Linked DNA regions of Homo sapiens. The protein of the gene in region 2 purifies or fractionates together with the protein of the main gene of each other region. This does not show direct contact. Each region holds a gene or a part of one and is shown on either strand. Other genes may lie near its edges.

The links. Proteins that work in one complex are often made in the same cells at the same time.
Region 1: the proteins of ELSPBP1 (region 2) and OLIG1 purify together in Homo sapiens (affinity purification with western blotting, with the first as the bait; one study listed by BioGRID). This does not show direct contact.
Region 3: the proteins of ELSPBP1 (region 2) and CTBS purify together in Homo sapiens (affinity purification with mass spectrometry; one large-scale study listed by BioGRID and IntAct). This does not show direct contact.
Region 4: the proteins of ELSPBP1 (region 2) and METRNL purify together in Homo sapiens (affinity purification with mass spectrometry; one large-scale study listed by BioGRID and IntAct). This does not show direct contact.

The regions. Positions count from the first base shown.
Region 1 is NC_000021.9:33,068,726-33,072,913, reverse strand, and holds OLIG1 (oligodendrocyte transcription factor 1), read right to left. Parts: upstream 2,774-4,188; 5' UTR 2,668-2,773; coding exon 1,852-2,667; 3' UTR 501-1,851; downstream 1-500. UniProt on the Homo sapiens protein: Promotes formation and maturation of oligodendrocytes, especially within the brain. Cooperates with OLIG2 to establish the pMN domain of the embryonic neural tube.
Region 2 is NC_000019.10:48,001,132-48,004,631, reverse strand, and holds part of ELSPBP1 (epididymal sperm-binding protein 1 precursor), read right to left. Parts: intron 1-3,500.
Region 3 is NC_000001.11:84,571,641-84,575,901, reverse strand, and holds the start of CTBS (di-N-acetylchitobiase precursor), read left to right. Parts: upstream 1-1,461; 5' UTR 1,462-1,486; coding exon 1,487-1,663; intron 1,664-4,261. UniProt on the Homo sapiens protein: Involved in the degradation of asparagine-linked glycoproteins. Hydrolyze of N-acetyl-beta-D-glucosamine (1-4)N-acetylglucosamine chitobiose core from the reducing end of the bond, it requires prior cleavage by glycosylasparaginase.
Region 4 is NC_000017.11:83,078,305-83,082,408, reverse strand, and holds the start of METRNL (meteorin-like protein isoform 1 precursor), read right to left. Parts: upstream 2,801-4,104; 5' UTR 2,594-2,800; coding exon 2,424-2,593; intron 1,264-2,423; exon of another isoform or gene 971-1,263; intron 475-970; exon of another isoform or gene 338-474; intron 1-337. UniProt on the Homo sapiens protein: Hormone induced following exercise or cold exposure that promotes energy expenditure. Induced either in the skeletal muscle after exercise or in adipose tissue following cold exposure and is present in the circulation.

The sequences.
Region 1 (4,188 bases), on a different chromosome or scaffold from region 2:
TTTCTTCACCTCTTAGGTGAAGACAATTCCAACCTGATTTAAATGATAAGGGGTAGGTGGGTGCAGCAGCGGGAAGCTCATGCTTGTGTGGTATTAAGCTTCTGTCCAAGGATATAGAAAAGGTGGATATCCTGGAAGGATGTTGAGCTACAATTTTATGATAAAGGTATTGCTTAACCCATTTTCCAGGGGATGAAGTTGTAGTTAAAAAAGACCTATGCCTGAAGCTTGGCAAAGAATGAATTCCTGGAATTGCCTCTCTCCCTTCTCTATCCCATTCTCTATCCCACCCACCCACTTACCTATAATCCTCATATTTCCCACGAATGCCTGAACTTGAACTACAGTTGCCTGTTCATTGGATTATTTTACAAATCAGGAAGTCACATTTTAAAACCTGGGACCCCGGTCATTTACCTACCTTCACCCCAAGGTTCTAAATCCACTAGGATACAAGGACTTTTTTATTACCAAACAAATCAGACAAAAAATGTAAAAAATCAGACTTTAAATGTTTTATTTTGTTGATTCTGTACACCGTCAGGAAACAAGGTTAGAAGTAAAATAAAGTGCCAGTTAAATTCGGCTACTACCAACAACCAAAACCTTAAACATAGAAAATCAAAGTAAACTGCGGAAAGGTCATAGCATAACCTTGGGTAAAGGAATTTGTTAACGTCTGTAACAAATCGAAACTGACTACGTATGTAGCTCTTCAACTGCAAGACGGCGAGAAGGAAGACCTGCGGGCCGCGCTGGTCAAGGGCCCGGCCCGCTGAGGAACAGCGGAAAGCGCCTTCCCGCCGTCGCCACCGCAGCTGGGATCCGCCGAGCAGCGGGCGGTTCAGGGCTCCCGGTACTCCTGCGTGTTAATGAGAACGTTCATTAGCGCTCTTGACAGGACGGCGACTGTGAGACGCCTGGTTACCTATTTTAGTAAATCGGGAACACTGGATGCAAGGCGGTTGGTTTTCGTTTTTAAGCAAGCTTAAATGTTGGTTACGCTACTTTTGGGGAAAGGGAAACGAAAGGTGAATCTCGAGTTCTAAGTTGCTTTCTAAGAAACCCCCAGGATTTAAGAGCGAAAACTCTCTGCGACAAAACACTGGATACGCGAGTCTTAAATACAGCTCTCCAAACAGCTGGTCTACAAAAGTGGACCCACGTCCCAACCCAGCGCACCCTGCGTTGTCCTCGCCCCTACCCACCGCACCCCGACGCCGACCACCTGTCCGCCGAGGGTCCGTCCGTCTGCCACGTCCCAGACCGTCTGCACCGCCTAACTGGTCTTTTTCTGCCTCTTGAGTTCCGGCAGCCTCCTTTGATAGGACCTGGCCGGCGGGAACAAGGGCGCCCGTGGCCTCTGGCGGAGGAGAAGGAAAAGAACCACCCCTCCGCCCCCGCCACTGCTCGAGCGCAGCCCCTAGTACTGGGAGCCGGCGTGCTCCGCTCCGGGGAGGTAGCGCTCGGGGATGGCCTCTCGCTGCACCCGGGGCGCGCCAACCACGGCAAGGCGCCCTAAGTTCTACATCGGCCCCGCGAAGCGCGCAACTCCAGGGACAAGGAGAGAGATGTGCTGGGTGAGAGCGAGCACTTTCTGCCTAAAGCCGCTGGAACCGACCCAGAACCCCAAACTGCCCCGAGGCGCCATCGAACATCCGCTCTGGTCACTTTAACGTCCCAGGGGTGGGGGCGGGGAAGGGGGTGCCCGACAGTCCCTTCCTCTGGACTGGAAGGTTCGAAATGCTTTCCTTGCTCGGCCTCGCTCTCCCAGACGCAGGGAGCAGGGGCGCGGAGAAGCTGAGCGAAGGGAGGCCGGGCCGAGGTCGCGCCCCAGGCCCAGGCCCGCCCTCACTTGGAGAATTGCGCCTGCACGGCGGCCAGGCCCAGGCTGGCCGGGACCAGGTGCGGGAACTTGCACACGGCGCAGGTGCAGAGGCCGGGGCCGCCTGCGCCGCCGCCGGGGAGAGCGAACTGGCCGCACGGCGGCTCGTCCAGCGCCAGCGACAGGTACTTGGCGGGGCGCAGCGCGTCGGGGGGTCCTACGGCGCCGGGCGCCAGCAGCACGGAGCCGGGCGCGGCGGCGAGCAGGGGCAGCCCGGCCAGCAGCAGGCGCGGCGCGGCGGGCCCGGCGCCCTCGCCCAGCGCGCGGCGCAGCTCCTGCAGCGAGCTGCCCAGCAGTAGGATGTAGTTGCGGGCGAGCAGCAGCGTGGCTATCTTGGAGAGCTTGCGGCCGGGCGCGCCCTGGCAGTGCGCCGCTGAGTAGGGCAGGATGACCTCGCGCAGGGCGTCCATGGCCAGGTTCAGGTCCTGCATGCGCTTCCGCTCGCGGCTGTTGATCTTGCGCCGCAGCTGCTGCTGCTGCTCCTCCTTGGCGTCCGGCCGGGCGCTGCCGCCCGGGTGCGCGCCTGACCCGGGCCCGGGGCCTGGAGGCTCGGCCGGCGCCTCCGGCTTCTCGCGCGCAGCCTTGGGGAGGAGGGGGGCCGTCGTGGAGGAGGAGGAAGTGGAGGAGGTGGAGGAGGTGGAGGAGGAGGAGGAGGAGGGCGGCTGCCTGTAGCCCACCAGCTCGTAGAGGGAGGCCCCGAGCTGCAAGTCTCCGGGCCGCTGTGGCCGCAGCATGGTCCCGGGGACCGCGTTCACGCGCGCCTGGGAAACCGCATAGTACATCTGGGAGGCGGTGGGGGCGGCCGAGGACGCCCTTCAGGAACGCCCTGGGGTGGGCCGGTCGGCAGGCCGCCCCTCCCCGCGGACCTGCGCGCGGGGAAACGATGGTGGGGCCCTGGCCCGCGCCCTACCCCTTTAAACCCGGCTTGGGAACCTGCGGGGCAGCGGGTGGCGGGGCGCAGCCAATGGAGGCGCGAGGCCGGGCGCAGCCGCGTGTTCATTGGCTGCTTGTGCCGGGGCCGCGCGGAGGTGCGGCTGGCACCGCTTTAGGAGGTTATTGTGAGCGCCTGTGCCAGCCGCGCGGGACAGGCCCCCTGAGCGGAGTAAGGGCGCCTTTTCAAGGCAAGCGGGGCTGTTGAAGGAGGACTGGTCGCACTGGTCAGGCTGCAACTCACGTGCCTTCCTCCAGCAACTGTCTACTCAAAAACAACCTCCCTCATATTTTTTTTTAACTGTGATCACATATTCATAACATAAAATTTACCGTCTTATGTTTAGAGTACTGTTCAGTAATGTTATATGCATTAGTGTGCACATTAAATTGATTTAAATTAAATTCACATTGTTGTGCAACCCATCTCCAGAACTCTTTTCAACTTGCAACCCTGAAGCTCCACCCATTAAACAACTCCCCACTCCCCCCGACCCAAGTTCCTGGAATTCACTCTTCTGTTCTGTCTCTATGAATTTGTTCTACTCTAGGTCCCTCATATAAGTAGAATCATACAGCACTTGTCTTTTAGTGACTGGCTTCTTTCACTTAGCATATTGTCGTCAAGGTTTATCCATGTTGTAGCATGTATCAAAGTTTCTTCCTTTTCAAGGCTGAATAATATTCCAGTATATGGATATACCACATTTGGTTTATCCATTCATTCGTTGATGGACATTTGGGGTGCTTTTGGTTGTTGCGAATTATGCTGCTATGAACATGAGTGTATCATGTTTTTTTTTTCTTAAAATACATAATTTCCTGCCAGGTTCAGGTCGCTAAATTTCTGGACTAAATGACAAGTAGCATTAGGATATTTCCTCCCTGCTGCTCCCAACCTCCTTCCCCATCCCTCTGATTGAAAGGTCTTTAGGGACAAAGGAGCCTTTGGGTCGGGTTTCTATCCTCCCCGAAAGGGATGGTCTATCAGCAACTTGACATTTGCTTAAGCAAAAGTCACTCAGAAATTGGCCTCTTATTAGAAACAAAACAAAACACCCACATAGTCCTATCGGTTGAGGGTGGGAATGAATCATTTTATTTGCCAAATAGAATAGCATTACTTGGTGTCTATGGACATTTTCTGCCCCCAGCACCAGTGCATGCTACTATAACTTGTCAATGTCCTGGGGAAGAGGGCATCTTGGTGGCTGTGCTTGCTGGTTTCAGGGCTGCTTTGTTCTGGTTTTCTTCCACCAATATTTGCCACATGGGTTCACTCTGATCTTTGCTTCTGACCCCCAGCTCTGCCTGTAGCATCCTGCCTATGCCTCAGGTTCAGCTCCAACCTTGCTTTCTTCTGGAAGCCTTGG
Region 2 (3,500 bases):
AATGACAGGTAAGCTGACACCTGGAGGAACAGATGGAGGAGGGAGACGTGAGAGGAGCTGGAGGTATGGGGGTGGGGGATACATCCAGGCAGGAGAAGCCGACGTGGAAACTGCCTGAGATGGAAAAAGCTAGATGTGCTCAAGGAGCAAGTGGGACCCGCATGGCTAAGGCCCAGGCTGGGCACAGTGGCTCATGCCTATAATCCCAGTGTTTTGGGAGGCTGAGCAGGAGGATGGCTTAAGCTTAGGAGTTTGAGACCAGCCTGGGCCACACAGTGACACCTCGTCTCTACAACAAGTGAGGAGGAGCAAGGCCACAGAGATGCATGGTGAGATGGATGGGACCGGACCCTGTAGAGCCTCCCTCAGATTCTAAATGCAACCAGAAGGCCAGGTGTGGTGGCTCATGCCTGTAATCCCAGCACCTTGGGAGGCCGAGGCGGGCAGATCATCTGAGGTCAGGAGTTCATGACCAGCCTGGTCAACATGGTAAAACCTCATCTCTACTAAAAGTACAAAAATTCCCTCCACATGATGGTGCGTGCCTGTAATTCCAGCTACTCGGGAGGCTGAGCCAGGAAAATCGCTTGAACCCAGGAGGCAGAGGTTGCTGTGAGCCGAGATCATACCACTGCACTCCAGCCTGGGCAACAGAGGAAGACTGTCTCAAAAGAATAGAATAGAATAGAATAGAATAGAATAGAATAGAATAGAATAGAATAGAATAGAATAGAATAGAATAGAAGCAACCAGAAGCCACGGGAGGGGTTAAAGTGAGGAGGAGTGGGCCGGACACGGTAGCTCATGCCTATAATTCCAGCACTTTGGGAGGATGAGGTGGGCAGATCGTCTGAGGTCAGGTGTTCGAGACCAGCCTGGCCAACATGGTGAAACTCCATCTCTACTAAAAATACAAAAAAAAAAAAAATTAGCTGGGCGTGGTAGCAGGTGCCTGTAGTCCCAGCTACTCAGGAGGCTGAGGAAGGAGAATCACTTGAACCCAGGAGGCGGAGGTTGCAGTGAGCCGAGATCGTGCCACTGCACTCCAGCCTGGGTGACAGAGCAAGACTCCATCAAAAAAAAAAAAAAAAAGAGCAGGGGTGGCATTTATTCATTCAAAATCCTCCATCACCTTTAGAATACAATCCCTAGTCCATACTGTGCCTTCCCTCAAACTCATTTCTTATCTTCCTTCCCCTCCCTCGATCTGCCTTTTAGTTGTTTCCTGCAGAAGCCACCTCAAGGCCTTTGCACTCGCTCTTCTCTTTGCCTGGGATGATCCCTTGACCCCAGCTATTTGCATGGCTTGCTTCTTTGTGCAATAAAGAGTTCTGTGCAAATTCGAAGAATTGGTAGCAACTGATGGTCTGGAAGGTTTATGACTCTGCACAGACCAAGTTATGGATATTCATAGAAAATATTTTAGGGGCCATTCAAAATAATTATTCAACTGTAAAACAAGCCCTAATAGCCAGACACCCATGTCTCGTCTGGAACATCCAGGTGAGGACCAAGTTATGCTTTGGGCACTGGCAGGTTCAGATGCTTGGAGAACCCTCTGTCCTGAGCCCCGGGGTGGTTGGGACCAGCATCCTGCCACCGCTGCTGTTTCTTGGCTGGTCGGAAAAAGGGTTGCTGTGGCTATGGAGTCAAACCACAGGAAAATATGGGGATAGTTTTTCCAATCATCAAATGAGGGAGAATAAACTCCACCTTGGGATCTTATACATGCAGCAGATGCTGGAAAGCACTGTGTAAATGTCAGAGGGGGCATACAAGCCAGATATTTTCATTACTATTTATGAAGACAGCATACAAGCCAGAATTTTTGTTTGTTTTTGAGATGAAGTCTTGCTCTGCACCCCAAGCTGGAGTGCAGTGGCACGATCTTAGCTCACTGCAACCTCCGCCTCCCCGGTTCAAGCAATTCTCTTGCCTCGGCCTCCTGAGTCACTGGGATTACAGGCACGAGCCATCACGCTCAGCTATTTTTTTGTCTTTTTAGTAGAGACACGGTTTCACCGTGTTGGCCAGGTTGGTTTTGAACTCCTGACCCCAAGTGATCTGCTTACCTGGGCCTCCCAAAGTGCTGGGATTACAGGCATGAGCCACTGCGCCCGGCCCAAGCGAGATGTTTTAATTACTATTTATGGAGATGGGGGAGAGACAAATTTTGCCACCTCCTCTAAACCCTTGACTACCTGCAGTGTCATGCTTATATTCCTGCCTGGCCCAAAACCCCAATTCCTACACCTTAATTGGTTCATTAACCTCAAGCTTTCATTTTGACCCTTCTCCTCAAGATTCAAATGAATAATTTTTGGCTTAGATGCTAAGATCCAGACAGGCAGAAGGTTATAATGCCAGAAAGAGCCTGCCCTGGAGCCCAACCACCTGGGTTTCCATGCTTTGCCTCTTACTACCTTTGTGACCCCAACAAAGTACTGAGTTTCCTGGGTCTCAGTCCTCATCCGCACAGTGGAAGGGATGGTGATCACTGTTGCTGCTACAGAATGTTAGTGTCGTTCATAGACGCTTGGTGGGTAGAATAATACCCACCCAACACAAATCTGTCCACGTCCTAATTCCTAGAGTCCACGAATATGCTAGGTTGCATGGCACAGTGGATTTTGCGGGCCAGTCATGGTAACTCATAATTGTCATCCCAGCACTTCAGGAAGCTGACGCAGGAGGATCACTCAAGCCCAGGAGTTTGAGATCAGCCTGGGCAACATAGTGAGACCTCGTATCTACAAAAAATCTTAAAATTAAAAAAAAACAGCCAGCATGGTGGCACATGCCTGCAGTCCTAGCTATTCGAGAGGCTGAGGTGGGAGGACTGGTTGAGCCCAGGAGGTCGAGATCAGCCTAGGTAACACAGTGAGACCCCTATCTACAAACAATCTTAAAAAAAAAAAGAAAGAAAACTAGCATGGTGGCACATGCCTGTAGTCCTGTCTACTCAAGAGGCTGAGGCAGGAGGATCACTTGCACCCAGGGTTTTGAGGCTGCAGTGAGCTATGATCCAGCCTGGGTGACAGAGCCAGACCCTGTCTCAAAAAAAGGAGTGTGGAAGACTTTGCAGATGTCATAAAGCTAAGGATCTTGAGATGGGAAGATGATCCGGGATTCCCCAGATGGACCCAATGTCATCACAAGGGCCCTTATAAAAGAGAGGTGGTGGGATGCCGAGGCGGGTGGATCACAAGGATCATGAGGTCAGGAGATTGAGACCATGCTGGCCAACATGGTGAAACCACGTCTCTACTACAAAAAAAAAAAAAATTAGCTGGGTGTGGTGTAATCCCAGCTACTCAGCTGTAATCCCAGCTACTCAGGAGGCTGAGGCAGGAGAATCTCTTGAACCAGGGAGTTAGAGGTTGCAGTGAGCCAAGATTGCACCACCACACTCCAGCCTGTCAACAGAGCGAGACTCTGTGTCAAAAAAAAAAAAAACAGAGAGAGAGGCAGGAGAGTCAGAAAACCAGGTGTGACAACAG
Region 3 (4,261 bases), on a different chromosome or scaffold from region 2:
CACAATGTTGGCCAGGCTGGTCTCAAACTCCTGAGCTCAAGTGATCTGCCCACCTCGGCCTCCCACAGTGCCGGGATTACAAGCATGAACCACTGTGCCCAGCCCAAATTACTTATTTCTTCTTATTTGTACTACGCTGCTTCTCAAGCACCTTTAAGAATTATTTATTTCATCCCCTCTGTACTGCGTTTTCCAATTTTCTTATCTTTCAGAGTTTTTGCTCTACATTCCTCAGTGTTATCTTCTACTAATAGTTTTTTCACTTCTTTCTTATTTCTATTAACTTTTAAAAATCCCCTACCCCTTTTATTGCACCCTGTTGTGGCTTCATCTTCTCTTATTTTTCTGGGGCTATTATGAGAATTTTTAAAAGTGTTCTCCCTGCAGCATCTGCTTCCTCCATATTCCTTTGTCTGTTGTTTGGGTCCCTTCTTTCTACATTATTGGATTTTTTTGGTTGCTGTCCATGATTAAAAGTAAAAATTAAAAAGTACAAAGAGAGGAAGCTCCAAGTAGATAGCTGGTGCTTTTAACTTTGAATTTCACTGTAGGGTGATCTGGGTGTATGATTTGTCCAGAAAACCCGATGTCAGTATCTTTGCTCAGCCTCTTAGGTTAATCAGATAGCGAGGGGTTTCAGTTTTCAGTAGGCATAAAGCCACTTATTCTCCGTTTTAGGTGGAATACCCACTCAGCAGAGAATTTATCCCCTTCAGGGAATTCAGCCGGGGTGGGAGCCCGTGGTGGGAAAGAGGGGCAGCTGCCCAGAGACATGAAGCTGGAAAAAGGATCTAGCGATCAGAGTCCTTGAGCAGCCTTTGACTAATCTCCCCCTTTTCCGATTTACCTCTCATACTCATACTTGTGCTCTCCAGCTTCCAACATTTTGTTGCTGTTATCTCTTTGTCCTTGTGTTTAGGTTGTTAAACTTGATTTTTAACAGGAGAGTAGGCAAAATTAGATGCTTGAATTCAAACCACGATCTTAACTAAGACCTGATATCCGTAAGTAAAAATTTTTGGTATTCCAGCTTTCTTTTGAGTAGCAAAAGAAAAACAAAGTCTTTTGGCCACTCCAACCATGTTACTCAGTAGGCCCTTCCAAAGACACCCACTTCTCCATTTTGGGGATCCCCTTGTACCTTCAGACTCCACAAGGAGTACACGACCAGCCACGACAAAACGAGATGCAGACTATTGGGAGGACTATAAACGGTAGGGGTGATACCCATTTGAGTCCACGAACGGCCCTCTCGGCGCCGCAGACACTGGCTGTCCCCCGAGACGCTCCAGCAGCCACTTAACTTCACCCACCTGTAGCGCCCGGGGACGCTCGAAGCCCGACCTCCCACGCCCGCCCCGGAGCCCCGCCCCTCCCGCCCCTCCCCGCCCTTCCCGACTCTCCCCGCCCCTTCCTGCCCCGACGCGCAGCAGGCCCCGCCCACCCAGGCGGTAGGAACCCACTCCGGCCCGCTAGACCTGCTGCTATGTCCCGGCCGCAGCTTCGACGCTGGCGCCTCGTCTCTAGCCCGCCGAGCGGCGTCCCGGGTCTAGCGCTGCTGGCGCTGCTGGCGCTGCTGGCGCTGCGGCTCGCGGCCGGGACCGACTGCCCATGCCCGGAGCCTGAGCTCTGCCGCCCGATTCGCCACCATCCAGATTTCGAGGTCAGCGCCTTCCTCTGCTCCTCTAGGTCTGGGCTTCAGGGCACGAAGAGAAGTTAGGGTAGAACGGAGCCCTAAGGAGAGGTGCCGTGGGCGCCGAAACCAGCTTTGACCACTCGATGAGGGCCTTCCTGTTTACGGATCCTTCAATTTATAGATGAGGAAGCTCGGGCTCAGAGAAGTTGAGTAACTCCTCAGGCCTCACAGCCTGTAAGTGCCTGCGTAGGCAGGCGAGAGTTCAAACCAGATCTGCCTCCTAAGGCAAGCTCCTTTCATTCCCCTGCTGTGCCTCTGCGGAAGCACTCTGGGTGTAAAAAGCAAACAAGGTAGGATAATCCATTTATGTTTCCAAGGAACGAGGATTTCGTTTGAAAGAATCTCAGCACTCCAACAGTACATTAGAATGCAGAGTATTTTGCTTACCTTTAGTTTTCTATACCTGCTAGCCCTTTCCTTTAAAGTACCTCAAAACCACCCATGAAGAGTGGTAAAAAAAATAGCTTTCAGTACATTTTCCTTCTATCTACATAACAATTTGTAAGGCTTCTGGCAACTTTAATCAAACACCTTCTGGAGCAATATTAAAACCACCTGACTGCCCACTTCGATGACTGAAAGCAGGAATTGGATGACATCAGGAAGGTCCAAAGGCTTAATTCAAAGAACGATTCTTTTGTAGAAATAGGCATGATTCCTAGTTCTTAATCTAGTACATTAATCTGAGGCAGAACACTTAGATGCCAGTAAAAAAGTATATATACATGACTTAGGAGAAGAAATAAAAATGGTGAAAGTGTTTATGGAGAACCTGCCTAGTGTGGAAACCTAACATCTTATTAAAAGAAAGACTTCAGACAAAGTAGGATAACCTTTTTTATTTGAGCAAAGAACAACTTATGAATCGGCAGTACTTAAACCAGAAGGGGTTCAGAGAGGTCTGCTTTAGTAGCATGGGCTTTTATAGGCCGAACAGGGAAGCAAAGGAAAATAATTACTTGGTTGGCTATGACTGTTTGCCTTATTTAGCTATGACTTGGTGGAAAATTACTAGTTAGAGGTTAGTTGGCAGTTTCTGATAGGTTAAGCTTAAGTTTCCTTTCACTGTTGACCTTGGGCTGGAGTTTGCTTAAGCAGGAAATCCAAGGCAGTTGGAGCTGTTTCAGCATAATGGCCTCCCAATTAAAATGTTTTATACAATCTGAGGCCCAGCGCGGTGGTAGAGGCAGTGGGGACAGTAGCTGTAAAAGTTCAACCAGACATTTCTTAATTTTCTCAATCTCTTTTTGAGATTGAGAAGCACTTTGTGAGGCCAAGGTGGGTGGATCACTTGAGGTCAGGAATTCGAGAACAGCCTGGCCAACATGGTGAAACCCCGTCTCTACTAAAAATACAAAAATTAGCTGGGCGTGGTGGCGGGCACATGTAATCCGAACTACTTGGGAGGCTGAGGCAGGAGAACCGCTTGAACCTGGGAGGCGGAGCGGGAGGCGGAAGGTTGCAGTTAGCCAAGATCACGCCACTGCACTCCAGCCTGGGCGACAGAGCAAGACTATGTCTCAAAAAAGAGAAAAAAAAAAAACCTGAAAGATTTACTGTAGTACCCAATACTTAGTGGGTTAGGCAATATCTGTGGGCACTTTGAAAACCAACTATTCAAAGAAGCAAAATTATGCTTATTTGTATCTTCATGGTAAATGGTCTTTTTCTCTACTGGCGTTTTCTATGTTTTTCAAACACAAAAACTAGACTACATGGCATTTTCCCCTTATATTTTCAATTAGTTCACCCAGCTTTTTTTTTTTTTAAGGATATCTGTTATATCACAGGCTCTTAGTATTTTTTAAACAAATAGAATCTTAATTATCAGAACTAAAATAGAAGTTTTGATAGAAATATGAGTCAGAAAACAATGGGCCACTTAATTTCACATTATGAATTTTTATTATTTCAGTAGGCAATTGCTTAGCAGAAAAAATGAGTTATGCATAATTAATTCTGAAAAGTTAAAAAAAATTAAAAAAAATTAAGAAATGCCTGGTTTAACTTTTACAGCTGCTATCCCCACTGTCTCTCCCTCATTCATTCCCCTCACAAGGACCCAGTGATCTCTTTTGTAATGCATATCCCCTGAATTAAAACTCTAATTGATTCCCACTGATCCCAAGATAAAATACAACATCTTCAGTGGTCTTGGAAGTCCTACTTAATCTTTCCACTACCGACTTTAAAGGTTTTATCCAGTTCCACATACTTGCAGGATTTCTGTGCTCTACCTACATTGACCTTTTTCAGTTCCAGAATCTCAGAATTCTCCTGAGGTGTAGCGACCTTTGGGCTTTCCCTTCCCTCAGTTGAGAATGCAATCTTTTGTCCATAGGTATATCTCTTCCATCATTCTGCTGATTTCAGCCCACTCCGAAAGTGTGTAGTCCTCAGAAAAGTTTTCGTGCACCATCTGGCTAGCAGGTCCCCTTTATATGCTGGCGTGGCCCCCTGTAACCCCTACAGTCCTTAATACCATTGTAATTAAGTAGTTAACTCCTTACTGGACCTGGTCTCTCTCATTAATCTTTATCTCCTTAGAGCCTAGCAAAATACTCT
Region 4 (4,104 bases), on a different chromosome or scaffold from region 2:
GCAAATCCCAAGTGGATAAAGGGACTCACTGAAGGGGGGCGCAGGTGCACTGGAGGGTTGTTGAGGCACCAGCCCACACACCACAACTCTGGGTCACCAGGACAAAATGCCCGGCTCCTGTATGAAAGTCAGGAAGGGCTTCGAACCCACTGGCAGGTTAACTTTCCTTTCCCCACCTTGCAGGAGAGACGAACCAGGTGTGACCGCACCTGCGATGCCCGGGCTGACAGCAAGTGGGAAAGTTCATGGTCCACATTTATGAGCACTGGCTGATAAAGACGGGGCGCTGGTCCCGCCTCCCCCCACGGAAGGGAGGTTTCATCATCTCCTACTTAACTGCTTAGAAGAAACACCCAGCAACAGAGGCCGTCGATGCAGTGGCCAGTGTCATGAGGGGCAACTTTCCAGCTATCGGGGGATGAGAATCCACCCAGCACACCAGCGCTCGCTCCACCCTGTGCTTCGTCAGGACAGCTGGTAAAAAGTCACAAACACCGGAGGGTAGCAGGCAGGCCAGCGCACTCCGGTTTCCACAGCGAGTCTCTGTCACTGATTCGTGACGTGTGTGGATCAACGGGGCAGTGACCACAACAAAAGGAAGTCTCACTTACGCCCCAGAAACACAGCCGGGCCCCGTGTCCCCTCCAGATCACACCCGCAGCTCCAGCAGCCCCCACAGCTGCCCTCTGCCAGGCTCTGCAGGTGTGTGTGTGTTGGGGGGGGTCCCCTGTGTGTGTGTGTGGGGGGGTCCCCTCTGGGGAGTCTGAGGCCAGGACTGGCAACGATGGCGAAGAGGGCCTCCAGGTAGACAGGAGGGTGCGCAGGTCCTGGAGGGCAAAGCACTCCTGTCCCGCTGCTGTCACCTGCCTGGAGGAGCCGCCCGCCCCTGGAGGTGGAGGGGTGGCCTCCCCGCCACCCTCGGCTGCCTACCGCGCCCTCCCTTCGGGCTCCGGGAGGCGCCCCCTCCTACCGGGCACACAGTCCCCTGACACCCTGAAAAGGGCGCCGGCCCCTTCTCGACACACTCGGCCTGGGTGGCGGGGGCGGCGTTTCTGGCTTCGGTCTGCTGGAGCGGAACGCCCCGGGCCTCGGTTCGGGGATGCACCGACCCGCCGGGCAGAGGCAGCGAGCCGGGGCTGAATCACTCCGCGGGGGCAGGGGCGGCCCCAGAAGAGCCGTCGGCCTCGGAGGCTCCCGGCGCCGGCGTTCCCGGCCGACCCCCCCCAGACCTCCATCCGCCCGCGGCCCCGCTCGGCCGAGAAGGGAGGCGGCCGCTCCCGGGACAGCCGGGCACCGCCCACGGCCCTCGGGGCGACTCTGCCCCCCAGCGCCACGCCCCTTCCCCCGGGGAGGCTCCGCCGGGGGCGCTGGGGGGCGACTGTGGCTTCGCGGGGACCCGGAACGGAGGCTGCGGCTGCGGGGAGACCTGCGCCCGCCCCGCGGACACCACCCGCCCCGCACCGGCTCTGCCCCGACCTTCTCGGAAAACAGCTTCGCTCGACATCACCGCGTGACTCGGCCCGCGGCGGGGGCGGGGGCGGGGGCGGGGGCCGCGCCGAGGGGAAGCGGGACCCAGGCCCGGGCCAGCCCGGCCACGGCTCTCCGGGAGGCGCGCGTCACTCGGGTCCCCGCGCATCTGCGAACCCCGGAACTGGCGACTGCGAGGCTCGCGCAGGGCGGGTTCGGCCGCGGTGCCCTCGGCGCCCTGGGCTTCGCGTGGGAGCGGCGGCGGCTCCCGAGGGGCAGTCGCGGTCGGCGCCGCTCTCGGCGGCCACGCTTGAGTCAAAAAAAAAAAAAAAAAAAAAAAGTCCTCGGCCGCCACCGCGGGTGGGGGGGGGGGGGGTCGCCCAGCGCAGCGCGCGCCGCGGCCAAGGGCGGCCTGACCTTCACGGGGCAGGGGCGGGGGGCCCGGCCGGAGCCACACTCGGCCCGGCTCACAGGTGCCCGCCCGCGGCTCCCCGAGACGGAAGTGGCCCCCGCTGCGGTCCGCGCCCGATCCCCGAAACCGCCGCTCCCTCCCGCGGCCGTCCCTTCCCGCTCTGGCCCGGGGCGGCCTCGGGGCGCGCAACTCCCGGAGCCTGCCAGGAAGGGCCCGAGGACCGACCCCCGCCTGCCCCCGGGATGGGGTCGCGGGACCGGCGGCCCCCGAGGCTCGGACACGCGCGGAGCCGGGACCCACCCGGCCGCGCTGCAGGCGCGCCTCCCCCGGGCGTCCTCCGGGCCGGGAACCGGGACGCCGCGGGCTCTTTTGTTCTAGAACCGGGGGCGGGGGACAGCGGGCACCGGACTGGGCCTGGAGAGCGGCCCCCGGAGCCCCTGCCCCGCGCCCGCCCCCGGCCGCGCCCCCGCACGCTCGGCCGGCCCGGGACGGGAGGGGACGCGAGGGGAGGGGGCCGGGCCGGGGTCGCGCCGCGCACACTCACCTCCCCTTCCAGCTGCACCGGTCGCTGGAGTACTGCGCGCCCGCGCCGCCCAGCAGCCCGGCCAGGAGCAGGAGCAGCAGCGGGAGCGGCGGCGGGGGCGGGCCCGGGGCGGGGGGTCGCGGCCACGGCTGCCCCGCGCGCCCCCAGGCCGCCCGCGCCGCGCCCCGCATGCTCTGGCGCCGGCTCCGCCGCCCGGCCCCGCGTCCGCGACCCCCGGAGCAGACCCCGGAGCCGGCGAGCCGGGCGGGGGCGGGGCGGGCTTCGAGTCCGGGTGGTCACGTCGCGCGCCCCCCGCGTCCTCCGCGCGGCCGCCCGCCCATCCCGGCCCGCTGGAGCCGCGCGCAGAGCTCCGCGCCCGCCGCCGCCGCCGAGCCTCTGAAGTTGGCGAGTCCGAGTCCGCCCGGCCGGGCTCAGCTGGGGGGTGGGGCCCACCCGCCGCCCCGCCCCGCCCCCGACCCCGCCCCCGACCCCGCCCCGCGCCGGAAACTCCTCCCGGGGCGCCCGGCCGGACGCGCAGACACCGAGTCAGCAGCGAATCGGGGGCGCGGGCGCCGGGGCGGGGGGCGCTGCAGGAGGAGGGGGCCGCGCCGGGCGGCGAGCGGGGTCCGGAGGGAAGAGCCCGGCCTGGAAAGCGGAGTCCGGGGCCGGAGGGGTTGCAAGGCGAGGGCGGGGCGGAAACCCGAGACCCCCAAGTAGTGGCCGACGCGAGCCGCGGTCGCCCCCCGCAGACCCCCGCGAGGCGGTGCCGGGGCCGCATCCTGCGCCCCATCCTGCGCCCCATCCTGCGGGCAGCCCCGGCGCGGAGCGGTAAAGGAGGCTCCCGGCCCCGCCGGTTCTGGGTCCCCCGCGCCTCGCCAGCGGGCGGTGATCAGGGGCGATCCGGGCGCCCCGCGTTCCGCAGAGTTGGTGCCTCGGGAGTTCCCGGCTCCCTCCTGACCGGGGGGGAGGCCCGGCGGTGAGCCCGGCTTCCCTCCCTCCTCCCGGAGGACGTGCAGCCGCCGCGCCGGGGCCTCTGCCGAGCGCTGCCCACTCCTCGCTCCGGATACGCGGGGCCGGGTGGTTCTTGGGGTGGGGACGTCCTGCGCATGGTGGGATGTTGGCAGCACCCTGGCCCCCGCACTCTGGGTATCAGTAGCAACCCCCGCCCCAGCTTTGACAACCTAAACTCTCTGCAGATTTGGCCAAATCCCGCCCCCACCCCGTGCCCGCGGGGCAGAATCACCTGCGGAGCGTCCTGCTCGAGTGTGTTCCTCGGAGTCGGCGCCTTCCCCAGGTGGTCACCGCGGCCACCACGTGCCTGACCCAGTGGGGGGGACAGCGGAGACCCCCGCCCGGACTGGGGAGGCCCTAGAGACTCAGGCCAGAGAAGGGGAGCCAGAGGGTGCCGAGGGCCCCCCAGGCAGGAGAGGGCGGAGCTGGCCCGCCCGGCGGTCCCCGCTGCGATGGCAAAGCTGGCTTCTGTGTGCTGCGGGTCAGTGGCCCTGCCCGAGACGCCTGGTGTCAGTTCCAGAGCCGAGCGCAGCATCCAGCGGTGGGGAAGCTTGGCCTTGTCCCCTTTTCCAGCCAAGATACCTTCCAGGAGGACTTGCGAACGACCTGTGCAAGTCTGAATAACTGGGTTGTGACTACCAGAGGAGGCGGGGAGAGGGCTTTGAAAATTGTGAGTCTGCAGGGACGGAAG